Linked DNA regions of Homo sapiens: regions 2 and 3 are each linked to region 1. The links come from fine-mapping of genetic effects on gene expression. A gene starts in region 1. Each other region holds a variant in brackets. All regions are shown on one strand. Distances are between the middles of the regions. Region 1 holds the start of SFSWAP (splicing factor SWAP). Region 2 has its middle 28 kb from the start of LINC02414. Region 3 has its middle 24 kb from the start of LINC02370.

Region 1 (2,757 bases):
GTGTGCTAAGCACCATTCTAGGTGCTGAGGATGCTAAGGTGACCCCAACAATGTCCCTGATCTCTTAAAGCTAATTCTGGTGGGATGCTGAACACAGGATGTAACCTAAGGTGGTGATGAGAGGTACACAGACAAATCGGAAGGCACAAGTTAGCCACCAGTGAGGGGAAACTCCAGACAACGTAGACACATAAGGCCAGGTGGAGAAATGGATGACTGAGTTAAACTTGGGTAAGGAGCCTGGCAAATGAAGACAGAAGCATGACCCAGTCAGGGGAAACCACAACAAAAGACGTTTGGTGGGAACTGCCTGTTTCTTAATTTCCAAAAATCAGTTAAAGGTTCATATACATTATCTCATTTCAACATCACTGGTAGAAAGATTCCATTTTTATGGAGAGGGGATCTGAGGCCCAGAAAGGAGACGATCTGTCATCGTTTTCCACTCAAGGGCAAACATGGGGATATCCCATCCCATCCCAAAGCCTAAGATTTTGCACTCCAGGCCCTTTGTCTGACCTGAAATTACTGAGCTAAAAGGGACCGAAAGATCCTAATGGAACCACCGATGGGAAAACTGCGGCCCAGGAGGAAACACACCAAGCAAAATTGCACCGTATCCAGGTGGCCAGTCTCCAGACTGGGGTCTCCCTGCCCCGCCAGACCATCTCCCGGCGACAAGGGTCTCAGGTTTCCGAAATCTCGCCACCCGCGAGTGATTTGCAGCGCAGGGGCCTCTGCTGCCTCGGAAACCTTCAAAGGTGGGCGGGTCGGGGACCAAGTCCCCCTAGGGATGGAGAAGGAAACGGGGCCAAGGAAAAGGACATCGCCACCCTGGGCAGAGCACGCACGGCCCCAGCGACTCGGACATGGTGAGGGGCGCGGAGGCTCGGGGTGGACCCGAGGCCTCCACACATGTGGCAGGCTGCAGCAACCCGCCACCCACGAGGACTCGCCCAAGGCCCAGAGCGCGCCGGGCCCCTCCCTCCGACTCCGTCGCCGCCCGACTGGCCGCAGCGGAAGCCGGCGCGCGATCCCACGCTGCGCTTTCGCCACGTCCTGACGGCTGCCCGATAAAACGGACATTAAAATTGCACTTTCCACTGAATACAGCAGCGCCTATTGTGGCGGCACACCTGAATGCGAAAATTAAAGCCAAAATATTTCCTAGCGGCTAAAAGAGCTCCAAGCCTAGGCGAATCTGCCGGTCCGCTCGCCGGAAATGCGGGCTCTCCTGCCGGAAGCTGCCCCTCCACCATTTTGTGGCCCGCTATGGCGGCGGTGTTGAGGTTGGGTACGGGATGCGGGGTCTTTGACTGAAGGGGTAGGCCAAGTGGAGGTATCAGGGACGTCGCGCGGCACAGAAGAGGACCAGCCTGGACGCCGGGGACGCTGTCATGTACGGCGCGAGCGGGGGCCGCGCCAAACCCGAGAGGAAAAGCGGCGCGAAGGAGGAGGCCGGGCCAGGCGGTGCCGGCGGTGGGGGCAGCCGAGTGGAGCTCTTGGTTTTCGGCTATGCCTGCAAGCTGTTCCGGGACGACGAGCGGGCCCTGGCTCAGGAACAGGGACAGCACCTCATCCCCTGGATGGGGGACCACAAGATCCTCATCGACAGGTCGGTTCCTCTCCCCACCCGTCGATCCTTCCCTTCCCTCACCCGCTTGATCTCGTCTGATGTTGACTTGACTGCAAGGACTGCAGAGAGTTTTCTGGAGCCAGCGGGGATCTGGGGGACACCCCCTCCCCTGTCCCCACCTCCTCCTGGTGTTCTGGTGGGGAGGGGGACGGTGAAACCTGCCCTAAGGCACTGGCTGGAATTGCGTGCCGCGTCCGTCTCCGGAGGGATCGTCTCTGGTCCCGCAGCCCCTCTCGACCCCTCACCCTGTCGCTGGGCTGCAGTTGGCGATTCCGCGCGGTGAAAGCAGCCAGTGCCCAGGGTCTTTTCCTGAGTGCACCTGGGCCTGCCGCCCGGCGATGCCATGGGGTCGTGCGCTGCTTTTCTACTTGCCGCGCTCTCACTGCTCGGTGTACTGGGAGGGTACCCTGGGAGGCGTGCCTTTATTCTTCCGAACCGCCGCTCACTGAGACAGTGGCTAGAAGTGTCTCTTGGACCTGTGAGTTAGCCTTAACCTGTTATGCCCCCAGAGCCCTCAGTGGAGCGCCCGTACTTTGCCGGCATGACGTTTGATTTCCCGGTGATAATCCGACGAGTTTGACAGATTGAGGTAGTGAGCAAAGTTGCCCGTCAGTTGGTGGCCACTTGACTTCGTGCGGACCCTGGCCTTGCTCTTGGAAGAGATAGTGTTCTTAGGGCTGGTTTCACTGTCTCTTAAGACTGAAGGGTGGAGCTGGGATATAGATGTGTTGTTTCTTTTCAAATCAAACCTGCTTTAGGTCGTCACTCGAGGGTGTCTAGCGATTATGGGCAGTGGGGGCCTGGGATTAGGGATTTCTAAAGGCGTTTGATTTGAAAAGGATAACATTACATGATGTAGGTGGTTTGCTCCCCTCTTTCTTCCCATTTTTTCAATCCCCCTTCCCCTCGTCTCTGGGTTTTGGGGTTGTTGTGGGGTGGTTTTTTTTCTTTTTTGCCTGTTCGGCTACTTCTGGGGCCCGGACTGAAAAGCTAACCATGACCAACCATTAAACTGTGGAATAGTCTCTCCACGTGAAGAAAGCCCATCGTTTGAGACCATTAAAACTGGATTCTTCATAGCCCTGGAGCATGACTGTAGGGATGACCTCTGAGCTGGCCAG
Region 2 (2,757 bases), 35 kb before region 1:
AGGTGCGTGAGTATACACACACACCAAGAGATCCCATTGTTCCGCCTCTGCCAGCACACCACTGGTTATGGGGGGAGGTTTCCACACATGTCTGCCATCTTCCTTCTCCCCTCTCCTCCAGCCCCTTCTTTTCTCCCCGTGATTTCTTTGCAGAAGGACGGGGCTGTGCCATTTGTCCTGTGAGTCCCGTGTCCAGATGGTGCTGATCACATCCCCAGGCGTCCTTGGAGATGCTGCTCCCTTCCCTGCATTTCATGTAAGTTCTGGGGTTAGAACCAGCAGCTTGATTTGATGACATTTCCCTGTAGTTTGCTAGGAAGGTGTGTCATTCATCAGGGACACAGAGCACCCAGGACCCTCACTCCCAGGGTCGATGAAACAATCTGGTTCTGTGTGAAGAGCCCATTGTTGGTCCCCCATCCTCGGGCCTGGGCACGTCCCACAGAGCAGAGAGGACGGGGCCTCCCCTGGGCTCTGACGTCCAAGGAGAGAGGACGGGGCCTCCCCTGGGCTCTGACATCCGAGGAGAGAGGACGGGGCCTCCCCTGGGTTCAGGCATCCGAGGAGAGAGGATGGGGCCTCCCCTGGGCTCTGACGTCCAGGAGGGGCTCCCACCCCGAGATGCCTCTGATCCCTTCCAGAGGGAGGGGTGAGTAGATGCGGAATAACGGCCTGGGCTCTGTTTCCACTTTGAGTTCCTGACGAAGGGTCTCTGCACCCCCTAAGCTCTAACTTAACTGGTCCCTCCTAACTTTCCCTTGAGGAACAGTAAGTCAGTGACCCAAGCACATTCTGTTTCTAGTGGTGAGTGGAGGGTCCTGCAAGGTGCTGATGAGTCCCTCAGCGAGGCAGGTGTGGGCTGGATTTGCAGGGGCAAGAGCTTTTCCCTCACAATCCATGGAGGCTGAGTCCACGGTGGCCATCCAGCCCCTTGCCCCTGCAGGGAGCCAGGCCCCGAGGCTGATTCCTGCTGACCCCTGACTAGAAGACTCTCAGCCTGTGGTCTCCACCTGATCCTTCTGGAGGAAACCCTGGAGCTCTGGTTTCCAGTTCAAGCACCCCGTCCTCACCCCACATGCATCCTTTCCCACATCTGTCCCACGGGGGATTTTGATGCCTCTCCTCTCTAATGCCACCAGCCTCAGTGACCAATCGTCCACCCCCATGGGTGCAGGGGACACTGGATCCCTGGTGTCACAGGAGCTTCTCATCATCCCCCACTGCCTCCCTTTCCGGCAGCAGATACGGGGTCTGCACGGCCCTGCAGAGGGGTTGAGTGAGTGTAGTCATGGATTTGGGAACCCTGAAGGGAGAATGTCATTGTCCTAAGGCTGGGAGACAGGCTGGGTGTGCAGGTGTGCATGCGGCATGTGTGTGTACAGGTGTTCATATAGCTGTGATGTGGGCGTGTGTGTGCAGGTGTGTGTGCAGGTGTGTGTGCAGGTGTGTGCAGGTGTGTGTGCAGGTGTGCACATGCATGTGTGTGGAGCTGAGTGGATGTTAGTGTGCGTGTGTATCTGTGTATCCATGTGGGTGTGTGGATGTTGTGTGCGTCTAGTATGCATGAATGTGCAGACGTGTTTTC[A/T]TGTGCATATGTGTGTATGTGTGCATGGATGTGTTTTTGGTTGTGTGTATATGTGTGTACATGTGTTCTGTGCAGGTGTGTATTTGAGAATGTGCGTACACACAGGTATATGGGATGTATGGATATGAGTGTGCATGTGTGCATATGTGTGTACGTGTGTGTTATGAGTATTTGAGCATGCATGTGCACACGGGTACGTGGGATGTAGAGATGTGTGTATATGTGTACACATGTGCTATGTTTGGGTGTACTTAAGCATGCATGTGCACACATGTACATGGGGTGTGTGGATATGAGTGTATGTATATGTGTGTACATTGCTCTGTGCAGGTGCATTGAGCATGTGTGCATAAGTGTGCGCACATGTCTGGGATGTGTGAGTGTGAGTGCACGTGTGTCTATGTGTGTGCATGGCATGTGTGTGGTGTACATCCGTGTGGGTGTGTAGCTGTGTGCAGGTTTGTGCAGATGTGTGTTTCAGTGTGTGCGTGTGTGCACATGTGCATTTTGTTTAAAACTCAGGGGGAACCTGTGGTGAGAGGCGTCCCCACAGCAGGCCGCTCCCCACTGAGCTTATTCCAGAGGCCGTAGGCCTCTCGCTGGGGGAGGGGGGCTCAGGGCCTCGGTGGCAGAGGCCCAGGTCACATCAGGGTCACAGCACCAATGGGGCTGGGTGGATGTGGCTGCCAGTCCAGCTTGTGGGAGCTGGGTCACTGGGGAGCAGCCCCCAGCCTTGACTCTGACAGCAGACTGTGGCCGGGTGCACCCAGGGCTGCCGGGACTTCTGGTTCTCCAGGATGAGGTGGAAATCCAGGTTTTACCTGAAACATCCCAACTTTGAACTATTGGCAACAGACTCAGAATTTCACAGGATGCCATATGGACTACATGGAGCATCCCAGGCTGGATGGAGCCCCCGACCCACTGGCTATCTCAGGAGCCATCCATGCTCAGGGTTTTAAGCGCTTTTTCTCATTTTGTGCTCTCCTGGGAGGTGCAATTTAGAGGTGATGGAACCCATTGGAAGGGCTGACCTTGGGGGATTGGCCCAAGGTCACCCGGGCTCAGGGGCGGGGCCAGGATGGACTCTCCTGGACTTTGTGCTGTAGCCCCCCAGCACCTGTACTTCACTGCCTCCCTGTCTATTAATTCATAATGCTAATAATTATTAG
Region 3 (2,757 bases), 340 kb before region 1:
CGTCGGTGTCCAATGTGACCCCAGGAGGGTGTGGCCCACCCCAAAAAAACAGTGTTGGGGGGTCTTCTTACCTCAAGCGATGCCCCGTCGTGTCCCTAGCCAACCTGGGTTTCCAGGAATAGATGTGGGAGGAGGGACCCCCACGAAGGAGGTGACTTTCCTGAACAAAGCAACCTCCCAAGACTCTTAGAATCTGATAACCCTTCACTCTTACTCCTCAGGGGAGAAGAGTCTCTTCCGGCCAGGCCATGGCAACCATGGGTTTGATGAGCTGTTGAATTTCCTACTGGAAATCAGCAGCCCAGAGCCCTGCTTCTATGGCAGGGTCAGGCAGGGTCAGTCAGTGCTCGCGGCATGGACTCGGGAGCGAGAGGGCCAGTGTCCTGGTTTACAGAGCGTGGGGTGCAGGGAGCTGATTATTCACTCTGTGTCTCCATTTCGTTTTTTGCAGAATGAGCTTTGGTGTGGATTTAACCTGAACAGGGCAGGCACAGAGTGTATGCTCTGTGTGAATTGACCTTCTGTATTTTCATCCTTCAGACGTGGAACCAATAGAATCTCCTTTATAAATGTATCGATCATTTCTGCCCAGAATCTCTTCCTGTTCTTAATCACTTGGCCTGAGGCTCCACTCCTGACCCCATAACTGTACAGGGTTCCCTCAGGCAGCAGGCTCCTTAAAGAAAAAACTTTACTCTTTTTTTTAATAGAGTAAGTGAGTCACATCCTTTTCAGAAGTAGCATCCTAACGTTAGTACATAAGATGAAGTCACAAATAGCAGAATGACCAAAGGCAACACCTTCGTAAGCCCTTGAAATACAGTGACGGACACAACACCCCTCCCTGGACCCATGGGTGTTGCTTCCTGCAGCCAGGGACCAGGTTCCTGTGTCTCCATCAGAGCCCCAGGCCAGGGAGTGAGTCTGCATTTACCGGCTGTGTTGCATGAAAAGCGTGGGCCTCTCTATGGCACGAACATGCACCTCGGCTCCCTGGAGGAATGAAGGGAGGCCCTAAGTGTCAGGCAGTGACCGCTAACCAGGGACCACAGCTTCACTGTCAGGG[T/A]CTACTGGAGCCGTGGCCTCACCAGGGTCCTAGGCTGCTCATCCCCGTGGCATGAAGGCCAACCAAGTTGGTGGAGAAAGAAAATAAATCACCGCCTGCACAGTGAAAATTCTGTTGGACGTTGAGACGGCTGTGGCGACCGTTCTCCTCTGCATCTTACCTGTGAGCAGCAGTCCTGTGGAGCGCAGCAGCGCCAGTGTGTTCTCAGGAACCTTCTGTCCGAACGGAACAGTTAGTGTTGCAGGCGTGGTCTAGTCGAGAGACAGAATTGACTCAAGACATTTCACAGGGAGGAAATGTAATGCAGAGAATGGGTGGAAGAACACAGAAGCCAAACCCAGGGGCGTGGAGCAGTCCAGAATTTAGCAACAGCAGGAATCCAGCACACTGCTCTTTGTCTTGGGTTAGAGGGAGAAAGACGGAGGCAAAGCTGGGACTTCAGTAACAGCAGACGCTCCCAGACAAGCCAGACACACCGGAGGGAGCGAGACAGAAAAGCACCAGGCTGTGGCCTCCCCACATCTCCCGCCTGCCATGTCCTGCTGAGGCCTCCCATTGGCCAGGGATGCTGTGGGTGGGCCTGTTCAGGTTCTTGACATCTGTGCACGAAATAATTTGGGAGCAAGTCCAAAGTAAGAGTGGGCAAAGAAGTTTATTGCAAAGCGAAAGTGTGCACCACTAGCTGGGTCAGAGCGGGCTGCTCTGGAATAAGACAGTGAGACTGGCACTGGGAAGTTCCTTTGATGGGAGTCTCACATGATTATTCCTGAAGGAGCAGGAACTAAGCATGTTGTGGGTGGGTTCCTGGGCCTACAGAGGCCGTCACTGTACATGCTGGCACATACATTGCCTGTCTCATTAGCATTTTAAATCTCTGCCCAGGCATGTGTTTTTCACTATTACAGTGAGCAAAGTTCAACATAAGGACATGGTTCTTGGCTCGGCCTTTGGGACTTTTCCTCCAACAGTCACTCCTCCTTCAGCAAGGAAGTTGCCCACTGCGGGTGACCACAGATGTCTGTCCCAGCCACTTTCTGGAGCGTCCGTTACTGACCGGGGCCCCTGTGCTAACCTGTTGGCCCCATTTGGCTTGCTCTTAGCCGCCTGCAGGTAATCTTGCCTGTTGCCTCGGTAACTGCCTGCTTAAGAACTGCCCAGAAATGGGGGACAAGGAGGCCAGGGAGTACAGCACCCTTGGGAAGCAAAGAGCAAAGCAAGGTCAGCGAGTGGGTCCAAGGGCAAAAGCAAGTGGCCCGCATGTCTGTGCATCTTTGAGGTTCCTGGAAGGTAAGTTTAAATGTTTGCTGTTTTTAATATATTGTGGGGCTTGGGGGCCAATTTTTTTTATCGTGGTAAAATACACATAACATAAAATTGACTATCTTAACCATTTTTAAGTGTACAGTTTGATGATACTAAGTACATTGCTTTTACTGTGCAACCATCACCACCATCCAGCCCTCCATCCATCCATCCCTCCATCCATCAATCCATTCCTCCCTCCATCCATCCCTCCATCAATCCATCCCTCCATCAATCCATCCCTCCATCGATCCATCCATCCATCAATCCCTCCATCAATCCATCCCTCCATCAATCCATCCCTCCATCAATCCATCCATCCATCTGTCCATCCCTCCATCCATCTGTCCATCCCTCCATCAATCCATCCATCCCTCCATCCATCCTTC

Evidence for each region. PIP is the estimated chance that this variant, and not a neighbour inherited with it, causes the effect. A credible set is the group of variants that fine-mapping cannot tell apart.
Region 2: its variant is the best candidate, but not a certain one, in a credible set for the expression of SFSWAP in whole blood (TOPMed, PIP 0.52).
Region 3: its variant is the best candidate, but not a certain one, in a credible set for the expression of SFSWAP in whole blood (TOPMed, PIP 0.62).

Annotation. Positions count from the first base shown.
Region 1 is chr12:131,709,833-131,712,589 of GRCh38, forward strand. SFSWAP (splicing factor SWAP) reads left to right here and starts at 1,258. Exons shown (of 18, transcript NM_004592.4): 1 at 1,258-1,615. The coding sequence starts at 1,398. RefSeq lists enhancers at 813-902, 1,043-1,332, 1,423-1,492.
Region 2 is chr12:131,674,923-131,677,679 of GRCh38, forward strand. No RefSeq gene overlaps it. Among named protein-coding and RNA genes, the nearest start is that of LINC02414, 28 kb to the left of the region's middle. The variant A/T (reference allele first, on the strand shown) is at 1,586.
Region 3 is chr12:131,370,165-131,372,921 of GRCh38, forward strand. No RefSeq gene overlaps it. Among named protein-coding and RNA genes, the nearest start is that of LINC02370, 24 kb to the left of the region's middle. The variant T/A (reference allele first, on the strand shown) is at 1,067.